Regions from separate parts of the Homo sapiens genome. Here region 2 is linked to region 1. Evidence: fine-mapped expression QTL. Tissue or cell type: lung. Region 1 holds a variant in brackets; the other region holds the start of a gene. All regions are shown on one strand. Distances are between the middles of the regions.

The links. PIP is the estimated chance that this variant, and not a neighbour inherited with it, causes the effect.
Region 2: NALF1 starts here. The variant in region 1 is fine-mapped to the expression of NALF1 in lung (TOPMed, PIP above 0.99).

The regions. Positions count from the first base shown.
Region 1 is chr13:108,066,016-108,072,118 of GRCh38, forward strand. No RefSeq gene overlaps it. Among named protein-coding and RNA genes, the nearest start is that of LIG4, 150 kb to the right of the region's middle. The variant C/T (reference allele first, on the strand shown) is at 3,620.
Region 2 is chr13:107,863,995-107,870,097 of GRCh38, forward strand. It overlaps NALF1 (NALCN channel auxiliary factor 1), which reads right to left and starts at 3,502. Exons shown (of 3, transcript NM_001080396.3): 1 at 1,688-3,502. The coding sequence starts at 2,602. LOC124903206 (heparan sulfate glucosamine 3-O-sulfotransferase 4-like) reads left to right here and starts at 2,679. Exons shown (of 1, transcript XM_047430833.1): 1 at 2,679-6,103. The coding sequence starts at 2,903. The coding sequence ends at 3,466. RefSeq lists an enhancer at 3,970-4,538.

The DNA.
Region 1 (6,103 bases):
AACAAAACTAGCTGTTATTAATACATTTATTAGTTTAAAAAGATAATTTATTCAAGAGTCATATTATAGGTACCACAAATCATCTGTATTTAATAAAACTTTAATTAAAACTATCCAGCAATGGAACTAGATAAAATGAGAAAAACAATCTAATTACCAAGACCTTTAAAGGGAGAAAGATTTTTTTTTTAAATCTTCCTTTTCTTCCTGTAAACTCGTGAATTTTATTCCTAATGTTTCCATGTGAACTTATTTTTGTAAATGTGCTAAACAAATGCAGAGTTAAAATAAACCATCTAAGTCTTTGCTTAAAAAAAAAATAGAATTAAACACCACTGATCTCTCTAGTAGTACATGCATCTACTAACATCTACTCAAAGAACCCAATACACTAGAGAGAGAAAGAGAGAGAAGGGAGGGATGGAGAGAGGGACAGAGGGAGACAATATTGATCTATCAGTTTATTACATTTTTAAGCATTTACTGGGACTATATCCTTTATTCTATGTTCATTCATAATATTTATATGATTAAACAGCATAAATATAAAGCCAAAGAATTACTACTAAATATCTAGAGTAATGGTGATAAAATCTTTGATATTTAATAATCAGTTGTGCCTATATAATATTAATATTTGTAGTTTTGCCAAGCCATTAAGGTTATTTCCAGAGGCAGTAATGGATGCACAGCATGCTTAGGAAGAAACCAATGCAGATATTGTTGGATGCATACCCTGATGCTTGACCCTGTTACATGTATTTCATTTTATTCTCACACCAGTCCTTCGATATAGATAATATTACATGCATTTTACAAATGATGCAATTGGTCTCTATAGAGTTAATTATTTGTCTGAGGTTATAATGAAAGAAAAACAACTAAGTCTTCATATCTCAAGACTAGCAAATTTTTTGCTATATTGAGCTACATTGGAAGTTTCATTGTTGAGATAGTATACAACTTTCAAAATTCAAAATTATTATTTATTGTTTTACTGAAAAGATAAATGTGAAAGAATATGATATATTGAAAATAATGCATTTCCTTTCCACCTAATTAGCTCATAAACTCAATGAAAGAGTGGGTAGATAAAGATATCTAGAAGAGTTATTCCTTCTTTCTCATGTGAATGAATGTGAAAATAAGAGAATATCACAAATATTGTCTTTGGAAATAATTCTTACATGTATTCTATGGTGGTTGAAAATAAGGCTCTTCCTAGAGAGCAGGGTAATAGTACATGTCATATGTAAAGGAAAGAAAAAAAATAGATATATAAATTGTGTAGGAAATTCAGTGTTGTAGTAAACGGGAGATAAGACTGGTGTCAGAGGAGTGGAAGTCAATTATAAGAGAATGCAATCAGTTTCATAATTCACTTCATGTGCCCCAATAAACAAATAGCAAATATTTGTTATTTCCTTAGCTAATGAAAAGCAAATAATAATTTTTAAAAATAAATCACATTTGAATTTTTTATTCAAATGATGATAATAAGAAATGTGAAAATATGAATCATATTACATATAATGAAGTGCTATCATAATTCTAAATTACTTTCTTTAAATAACAATACTGAGATACACACAAATACCTCTGAGGACTAATCTCTGATTTTTTTTTCTTGTCCAGATTTCTATCTGAGTGACCTGGGGAGTCATGCCCTACAAACCATAAATTCTCATCAGATGGGTTTTATTTAATCCTATATATTGTGACTTACTTTCCAATCTGACTCTGCCATAACATTACGAGACAAGGAAGAAACTCAAAATACTGGGCTGGGCATAGTGGTTCATGCCTATAATCCTAGCACTTTGGGAGGCCAAGGCAGGTGGATTGCTGGAGCTCAGGAGTTTGAGCCCAGCCTGGGCAACACAGTGAAACCCTGTCTCTACTAAAAGAGAAAAAATTAGCCAGGTGTGGTGGTGCATGCCTGTAGTCCCAGCTACTTGGGAGGCTGAAGCAGGAGAATTTCTTGAACTCAGAAGAGGGAGGTTGCAGTGAGCCAAGATTGCACCACTGCACTCCAGCCTGGGCAACAGAAAGAGATACGGTCTCAAAAAACAAAAAACAAACAAACAACAACTACAACAAAAAAACAAAATCAAAATACTTTACCCCAAAACATGTTTCTCTGCTATATCTTGAAATGGCCCTGCAAAGCCATTCTTTGTGGAGGAAAATCTGCATCTGTAAAGAATCTCTATTAACATAGATCATTGCCAGGTCTGTCCCACCAACCCTGGCAGAGAGACAGATGAAAGGAGTGCACAGACACAGGTATTTTGCCTGAGAGCGTGGCTAGGGGACTGCACAGCATAGCACCATTGACAAGAGTGCAGCCCTGATAAGATGGAGCCATTTGTATTTATTTAGTACAGATTTAATGACAAAGGCCTGGAGCAAACACAACTTGTGGGTAATTAACACTGTGGACCCCCCAAGTTAGAGAGCTCCTGAGTGCGAATGATCAAAGGCTGGTTTCCAGGGACATAAGTAAACCAATTTATCTAGCTAAGTTCCTTTACATTCCCTTGTTACCTACCCTTTACCCTTAAGAGAATTTAGCTGATGGCAGAATTTAGCTGAAAGCTTTTGCAAAACCTCCCAGCCTTCCAAGGAGATTTGCGTCTTTCCCTAAAATTTTTTCTTATAACTTTTCCCACCACCCTGACTGATGTCCTACAGATCTTTTTGTTCCAGGTCCTCCCAATTCTGAAGAGATTAACTAAAAGTCTAGCACCTTTTAAAGATCTGAATAGGAAACATTTGTCATCTATTGTCTCTAAGGCAGCCACTATAAGACTTCAAAAGAACCTTGGCCTCCACAGTCTTTTCTCTTAACCTGAACATTTCCTTTCTATGGATCCCAGGTCTTTAGACAAACTCAACCAATTGTCAACCAGAAAACGTTTAAATTTACCTATAGACTGGAAGCCCCTCCCCCCAACCCCCTCACCTCCCCACCCACTTTGAGTTGTCCCGCCTTTCTGAACCAAACCAATGTATTTCTTAAATGTATTTGACTGATGTCTCATGCCTCCCTAAAATATATAAAACCAAGCTGTACCCCAAACACCTTGGACATATGTTTCTTGGGACCTCCTCAGGGCTGTGTCATGGGCCATGGTCACTCATATTTGGCTCAGAATAAATCTTCTCAAATATTTTACAGAGTTTTACTCTTTTTGTCCACACCTCAAAACCCTCCTTGTCTTTTAAAATTAAACCAAATTTGTGTAAATGCTCAGCTTATTCTGAACGAACTTGTTTGTGAGTTTTATTATACATGTATTTTATGGTGTGTGTGTGTGTGTGTGTGTGTGTTTAGCATATAAACTCCTAAAGGATAGGGAAACTTTTTACAGTGGCTTCTTAAAATAGTTATGTGTGTATACCTTTGATGAATGAAAATATGCAAATTTTAAAAACCCCAAATCAAGTTCCGTTGAGCTTTGGATTATAGAGGAGAGCTGAAGGAAGTTCATGTCCACTGTGAAAAATTAAAAAAAGAAATTCAATTTTAACCTAACAGAGACCTAAGGTGTTAGAAACAAATGCTCGGTGCTGCAAAGAAAAATCAGCACTCTGGCAAAAAGCTTTCTCAACAAGG[C/T]GATTTACTTCTGCAGAAGAGTGCCACTTGTGCCTGGTGTGGTTGCAAGAGCACATCAAGTGGGGTGGGGAAGAGGTTTTATTCCAAACACAGCAGCTCCTGTAGCTGTGTCCCTTTCTCCATTGGCTGTAGTTGGACTGCACAATCTAAGCTGACCCAATTGGCTACTGTTTAAAATTGAATAGAGTTAACTAGGTGGGATGGGAGAGGCTGTCCGTTACAGTTTTAGGGTGCAGTAAAGGCAGGAAGGATAGTTCTAGGGGGAAGGTCAGTTACAGAGTGGGTAACCAAGGGAGTAGATGTGAGTTTTAGAGTAGGACTGGCAGGAAGGTTGTTTACCCTAACTAGGGGCAAGGAGGCACAAAGAACGAGGAAGTTAGACTTTGAAAACTGAGATCAAAGAACAAGGAAGCTGAGCAAGCTGACTCTTTGAAGAGAAACTCACTGTACCTCACAAAGGTCACAAGGCAATCAACTGGCCCAAAATATAAGGAGATGTGAGTACCCACAGGGAAAGAAAAGACAGAAGCACTTCCCTCCATGGGATAGATAACAATCAGATATTAGAAGAAAAGAGTTCGGCTGGGCGCAGACTCTAGTTAAAGTATCACCCATGTAGTGAGAATTCAGTTACCACCCGATTAAGTCCTACACTGAAGGCTACTGTCATAGGCCTAGTCTTTAGAAGTTGATCCTTGAAGAGGAGTCCTTGTTTAGGAGACATGGAACAAGGGAAGCAGTTTAGGTCAGGGGGAATCTAAGCCAGGATTCAGTCTCCCCTGTAAACTGGCTTCCCTGTGTTCCCAGGCAAGCGCTGGGGCCTGGCTTTCTCTGGAGATCATTCTAAAGCCATCCGACTTTCAGCACCCCTGTCTTTTACCTATTGACCAACTGCTTGCCTCAGGGAGGCCTTAAGGGCATAATCTTCTGGGCAAGGTGACTGCCATTTTACTGCACAATGTTCTGCCTGGCAATTAGCAGGCTCTAAACAAATATTTGTTAAATGTTATTCATGTTATTTATTATCTGTTTAAATGCTCCCCCCCGCCACCGCCACCTTGCCCACCTCCAGTGACTCATGTTCAACATAGTCTGAACTGAGTTCAGCATTTCTCCACCCACGTATCCTGTCTTAATCTTATTATTATCCTCCCCGACACAGAAGCAAGAGATTTCTAAGTCAAATTTACTTCTTACTTGCCTTTATTCACTCATAAATAATTCATTAATTCTACAAATATTGCTGCTGAAAACTAAAATAAGTGCTGGTGACACAGAGTCAAACAAAACACAGCCTCTGCTTTCAAAGATAATTGTACCTAGTGGAAAAGGGAGAAAAGTAAATCAAGATTTACAGGACAACGTGGAAAGTGCAATGGCAGGACAAAGAAGAGAGGCCAGGAGAGGAGGGGAAGTCATCAGGAAGAAGTGAAGCTTAATCCGAATTAGAAAGAATGAAGGGGAGGGAACCAAGATGAATCAGGGAGAGGGACAGAGGAAATGGGATGTGCAGAAGCAGGGAGGGCTCCGTGGTGAATGGTTCCAGCCAGGATGCCAGTAGTTCACAGTGGCTGCTTGGAAGCCAAACATCAGGAGAGGCCAGCGAAGTCTCCCAAACGCAGACATCCTGTGGGGCCAGGGAACAGGCACTGCTCTGATTCTACAGAATTTGCAGAAAGGTCATTTGTCTTATTTCAGAAAGCTCTGGAGAGTGGTTGAGGGATTTTATGCAGGGTTTAATACTGTGTGGGAAGTTGAGGGGGGCAGGTGTGCATGCTATAAAGAGTATATTTTCTCATTATGCCATGGGGATCTAGTGAGAAACTTTGTCAAAATTGTATATGATTTATATAAAATCATATAAGAAAAAGAATGCAAGAAAAATGTATATACTATGCTTATAGCAATTCTCTTTTGTTTTGAACTAGCTCAGAATGGAAATATCTGATTTGTTCTAGGCACTGAGGATCCAGAGGCACATAAGAACCAGCGCCTACCCTGGGAAAGCACCATCCATCAGTAGTAAAAGCATGTGCCAATATAATGTGGTAAGTATCAGCACAAAGATGTGAATGGGTGGCTGAGCTAGGACAGCAAGGAAAGGCTGACTGCCTGAAGCTGACTCTCCTCCCGATCCATGATGGGTCCTGGTGACCAACTGCTTCCTTCTCTAACTACTTGCCACTTTTGTAACCCATCCAAGAATCCAGCAGGATAGATCCATTTGTCTGTGGATAGTGAATTGTCTTTCACATTTCTGTTCAAATGCAAACTTTTAAAAATTAAAACATTGAGAATTTAACATTTTGTTGGTGTGAACATTTAAATGGTGTGAATACTCCTTGACTAAATAAAAAGAATAAAATAGACTTTGATTATAAATTCACTCCTGGTAGACCTGAACTACAGTTATTAGGTACTTCTACTAGTTGTGGTGAGATCAAGCTAAAAATTATATACAATAAATGTCATTTGGGTCTAATT
Region 2 (6,103 bases), 200 kb before region 1:
ACAACTAAACTGAACCCTCTGCAATCCTTTTATTACTAGTAGAATTAGAAGACGTAGAGTTTCCTTTTCTTTACAATTTCAATGCAACATATCTTGTCAAAATAAATAACTGCAATTATTGCAGTAGTTATTCATTATTAATTTCTACCATTAAAGTTTTATTCCCAGGCATAAGTTAAAGTGATATGGTTAAAAAAATAGATAAAAAAGTTTAAGATACACTTGTCTAGTGAAGTATCACTCTAAATTAATGTTGTAAATTCAGACTTACTATTTTCAGAGAGCTGTGTTTCTGGTCTTGAAGAATGAGAATAAGGCAAGGTCAGTTTGAGTTTAATTTAACTGTCAAAAGCACAACTAATCCGCCCAAAGTAAAATATGGCCTTTCGACTGTGTTCATTTAAAATAGGCATCCCTTAGTCCAGTTCTTTTATCAAAAAAATCACAAAATTATTTGATCTATACCACCCTTGACTTTATTTTCCCAGCAGAACGCAAGTGAGACAGAGGAACAGTTGTTCTGCTTGTATATGGGATTGGGAAAGTAGGAGAGAAAGAGAGAGAATGTGGTGTATTATTTCCCTTGAAAAGCAGTACCCGTTTATTGTGTTGTGTAAGAAATTACCCTTGGAACAAAACATTAAGGCTTATAGAGATACTGTCATTACATCTTCCCTACTAAAGGTCACTGCAGTATCTTCATCTTCAGTACAGCTCTTGGGTAAATCTCATTTCAGCACCACGGACAGAGACGCTTCTATTAAAACCTGCGCCTATTGTTGCATTTGCATCGACCAATTCTTAAGAAACTTGCGCAGGCTTCCCATTTGCCCATCAGCAAGGGTTATATTCTTTATTACACTGAACAGGGAGAGCTTAAATATAATACAGACTATTAAATATTTCAGTAAATTTTAACTACATCATCAACGTTTTGCTATTTAATACTTCTGGAAAGCATACTGAAAATCAAGCTAATTACATAGTGTGTCTGATAAATAGCCTATTGCTAGTCAATCACTAGACACCTAATTACAACTGTTCATTCATAGTGAGTCCCAGATCAATAATTATACAAATGTCCAAGAGGAAACAGAAAACTTAAAAAAAGTAAATATCCTCAGGTAGGCCCCCAGACTTTCTGAACAACCAGAACTACCCCTGTAAAAACAGGTAATTCTTTTTAACTACCGAAACAACTACAACCACTTTCTCTTGCTCAACCAACTTAATGATGTCACTATGAGAGCGTTCCTGTGTGCAGATCTATATTGCAAACCACACATGCCTGTCTCGAACTCTTCTGACTTTACCTGTGAGCATCAGTGTGCAGTCTCATTGCTATTTTCCTGACAAGACTTTTTCAACTTCCTTTTCTTAAAAGATGTAACAGAGTTTGAGCCAACTGCATGAATGTAAGAAACAGTTAAAGTGCCAGCTTGATTATCTCAGATAACCGGGGACTTCCCTGATCTTCCAAGGACTCCCAGAAGAAGGCATCAGTCAGTCCACCAGCAATCCACCAGGTATTCTCATCTCAAACAGCAAGCCAAGCTCTTAATAACCGCAGAAAACACAAAGTAACAAAACCATAGCCAAAAAATAATAATAATAAACTTGAGAAGACACCCCAACCAAGCAGAGATAGGAAAGTGCAGGAAAGGGGGAAACCCCCGAGGGTTCCTACCTTACAGTCTTCAGGACAGGATTTCACCGAGTACTCCTCCGACTGTAAATATTTGTGGAGCACGCTTTCAAACTCTTCGTATTTCTCCTGAGCATGGTGGTCATAGTCCTGGTAAGCCTCGACGCACTGCCTGCAAGTGGTCATCTCGCCGCCTTCCTTGAGCACCACATCCAGACTGCAGTTCAAAGTGTTGGGACTGGACAACCCCGAGAACAACTCCCAAAGTGTGTAGGAATTACAAAACGAAAGGTAAAAATCCGACAAGTTCCAGAGCGGAGTGGGATGCTTGCTCCTCACCTCCTGCCCGTCCCCCCCGGCCGCCCCCCGACTCCAGTTCCTGGCGCACACCGCGTCCGCATTCTCCACCGTGAAGCACTGGCCCGAGGACGCGCCCTGGGGGTAACAAGTCTCCAGGCGCCACACGGGCTTGGCAGAGTTTCCTAGAAAAAGAGCCTTGCCCCGGTCGTCTTTGCCTCGGTTGCCCTTGCCGCCGCCGCCGCCGCCGTCTCCCGGGGAGGGGGGCAGGGTGGGGGACGAGGAGGCGGAGAGGAGTCTGTGTGCCTGGGCGGCGGGCGAGGACTCCCCCATGCTCGCCAGGAGCGCGGGCCAGGAGGGCTCCTGCTGCCGCCGCTGCTGCTGCTGCTGCTGCCGCTGCCTCTGCTGCTGCTGCTGCTGCTGCTGCTGCCGCTGCTGCTGCTGGTGCTCCTTGTCCCGGGCCCGGGTCAGCTTGGCCTCGGCGCAGAACCACAAGTGATCAGAGAGCAGGACTGTGAAAAACAAGAGAGATGCCAGAGACAGTCGCCATTTCTGAGCCCTCTCGGAATCGATGAACGGTTTCTCGTTCTCTCGGGGTGCTGCCAACCAGATTTTTAAGCCGTCGTCATACTGCCGACACATCCAAGCACCCCTGGTCATATTTTGGGAACGCACAGCCCTGGCCGACTCCACCGTGAGGGCGCCTGTGCCGGTGTCACCACAATATGCATTGACTTAAAGGGTTTAATTTCCTTATCCCCTCCTCCCGTTTCTTCTCTCTCCTCTCTCTCTTTCTCTCTCTTCCCCTCTCCCTCTCTCCTCTCTCTCTCTCTCCCTCTCCCTCTCTTTTATCTCTCTCTGTCTCTTTTGCCTACATAAATATTACCAGGCTTTGAAGGAAGGTCTGACTTGCTTCCTAATCATCAGCCGACCCCATCCTCTGTAGAGTGGGAAACAATAATGGAGAGAGAGAGAGAGAGAGAGACGGAGGAGGCTGGTGCTGGTGGCCGGCGGCGAGGCTGGGTGCAGGGGGCGATGGTGGAGGTGACAGGGTGGCTGGCGCGGCTCCGGTCACCCAGGCATTGTCAGCGCGCGGGTCCCCATGGCCCCGCGGAGCCCAGCCCGCTCTCCCCTGCCAGGGGCATGCCGCGCCTCCGCTGCCCACTGACGGCGCCCGGAGCGCCTCCCCTCCTCCTCCTCCTCCTCCTCTTCTTCTCCTCCTCTTCCTCCTCCTTCCTTTCCTTCTCCTTCTTCTTCTCCTCCGCCTCCCGCTCCTGCTCCGCGCTGGCTCTCCCAGAGTCCGGAGCCTGGGCTGCCTCCGGCGGGGCGCTCCCTCCCCCCCACCCCCCACCCCGCGCTCTAAGTGCTGCCGCCGCCGCCGCCGCCGCCGCCGCTGCCGCAGGGCCGCCCGCGGGCGCCGCCGCCGGGGCTCCGACTGCTGACGCCGCCTCCCGCGGAGCTCCGGGCCGAATCGCCTGGGCTGGGCCTCCCGAGAGCCACAGTCATCTTCAGTCCGCGGGCTAAGTTGCCGCCATCTTCGTCCTGGAGAAACACTTTTTTGGGGGGAGCGCTGGCTTTTGCGTCATCTCCTCCCGCGCCGAGCTCGCTCCATCCTGGCGCAGTGGCGCCGGCTCGGCCCGGGAGGAGGGAGAAGGCGCGCGGGGGCGGGCGGCGGCGGGGCCGCGGGGCCCGGGGGCCCCCGCCCGGCTCCCCGGGCTCAGGCGCCTGCTCTTTCCTTTCTGTCCCCCTGTCCACGATATTTTGTTTTAATCACTGAAGAGAAAAATAAAAGTCAGACTGCGGACGGCATGGCCGGTGAGGCTCCTCGCGGCCGCGCCGCCCGCACGCTCTGGCTCCGGGAAGCGTCCGAGTTGCAGGCGCCCGGGCAGAGGTCTCTACTGGTGCGAGGGTCTGGGCAGAGTCCTCTCAACTAAGGACCGAGCCACTTCGGATGGAAGGTGGGGGTCCGCGGAGGAAGCTCGAATTGGCTAGAGGAGGGATGAGGTGACATTTGGTCTCTGAATGCGTCTCGGATCCCGGACCGCGAGATCCATCGCTCCCAGTGCGTGCAGTTATTCCGTCCTGCTGTGTGACACGGGAGAATGGCGCGCACGCCTGTGCACCTGCATCGACCGTGTAGCTGCCTGGGTGACAGCCACCCATTTGTCTATGTTTTCTTTCCTATTCTAAAGTAAACGATTAGAAGTGGCCTCATAGAGTCTTAGGAAGAAACAGTAAGCCCTGTGCCACCCGGGGTCACTGCCTAGCCCTGCCCTCCGCGCGCACCGTCCGCGTCTCCGAGGGCTCCTCCTCGGACCTGGACCCTCTGGAGCGGCTTCGACCCTCCCTCTGCCCCCGCTGCCTGCGTCCAGACCCCCTCCCGGGTGGGCTCCTCCGAGGACCTCCGCAGCCGCGGGCGAGCTGGGTGCCTGCGAGTCGCCGCCGCAGTCTGAGCCTCTGGTGCCCCTTAGCGTTGGCTCTCGGAGTTCTGAGAAGGGAAAGGAGACAGACACTCTGGGAAAATCTGGGGTCACCTCGATTCCGGCTCCTACGCTGGATGCCGTGGGCAAGCATCGGTCTCCTTTGATCTGAAGATCCTGCCCACTCCGCCCCTTGCCCCTGCCAGACCCGCGGGAGCAGCAGGTGGCGTGGGTGCCAGACGCTGCCGGTGCGCACCGAGTGCAGCGCTGCCCCGGCTCGCCCCGGGGGTCGCGTGGGACAGCGGTTTGCGGTGTCGCCCTCTCTGCGGTGCTTTCCAAGGACCCTCATGCCCCGCCCGGGTGCACATTCACCACATGGGTCTTACTAGGTGACCTCTTTCTAAGTAAAATGCATTGAGAAACCAAAGGGATGGGGCATCCGTATCCATTTTCCTTTAAGGAGCGCTGTGGGTGTTGGGGATGCGGGAGAAGTAGGTGTTTTTTAAAGAGAAAATTGCAAAACCTCTTGGGCAGGATTCGACCTACTAGCCTCTTCTGCTGCATAATAAGGTACTGTATACACTAAATTTTACCCCTAAAAATTTTCAGTTCTTACCAACTATAGGTAATGATCATCCAAAAGCCGCGTCCTGTTTGATGGCTGGTTTACTCAAGTGTCATGTAGTGTTTTAAAAGACGATTTGTGTAAGTAGATCATTCTAGTACTTTCGATTTCAGTGTGTTGAATTTCTGAGTAATGTCAGTTTTTCCTCATAATACAGACAAAATTATTATTTATTAACCAGATTGTTTATTAATCAGGACTGTACTGTACATGCCACAATATTTCTTAACTAAATACGAGTGCATACATTCTCGCTGACATAACTATTATTATACAAGTACAGTTTGTGCATTGTAAAAAAGGTGTAAAAATCAGAAGAGCAATTTAAAAAGTCATGGTGATATCAACACCCAGATATAATCAGTATTTTCATTTTACAGCATCTTCCTAACATTTTTATTTTGTATTACTAATTTCCTGTTTTGTGATATTCACTAGTCCAGCATTTTCGAAGGATTGAAGTATGATAGAATACACATCCACACTTATTAGATAATAATATATTTCCCTTCAATAATGCATTAATTTTAATCAGACACAAACATTTTAATGGTGGCTGAGATTATTAGCATCCAATGTCTTACTCTGCATGTGTGATTAAATCAGAAAGAGAACGAAAACTAGGGGAAATAAAATAAACAATATAAATTTAAAGGTTCATAATTATCAAACAAGGAACCGAAGCAAAAGAAGACTCTGTGACTTATCTTATTACTATTCAGATCTAGTAAAAATCATGTCTCAGAAGGTAGTTCAGTGATACTTAGTAAAAGTCTTATATACTGCATTAAAATAATAGTGTTTAATCTATTTTTACTTTATGTAACAGACTATAGTTAATTATTTTTAAGTAAGCTGGGCCTTGCCTTCCTCTAATGTTTCTCATGAATTAGGATATTTTTATAAAAGACAATTTTAAGGACGCAAGCCCACTGAAAGTAAACTGTTGAGAACCAATTTGACTTTTGTTTGTTGTGTGTTGGTTCTAGAATGAACTGTTGGAAGACAGATAAAAGACCAAGTCTGGCCTCTTGAAGCTTAGTCAAGGGGCAGATAATACTAACTAGGCCAACAATTACAATACAAGGTAATCTGTGAAGATTAGCATGTTTTGAG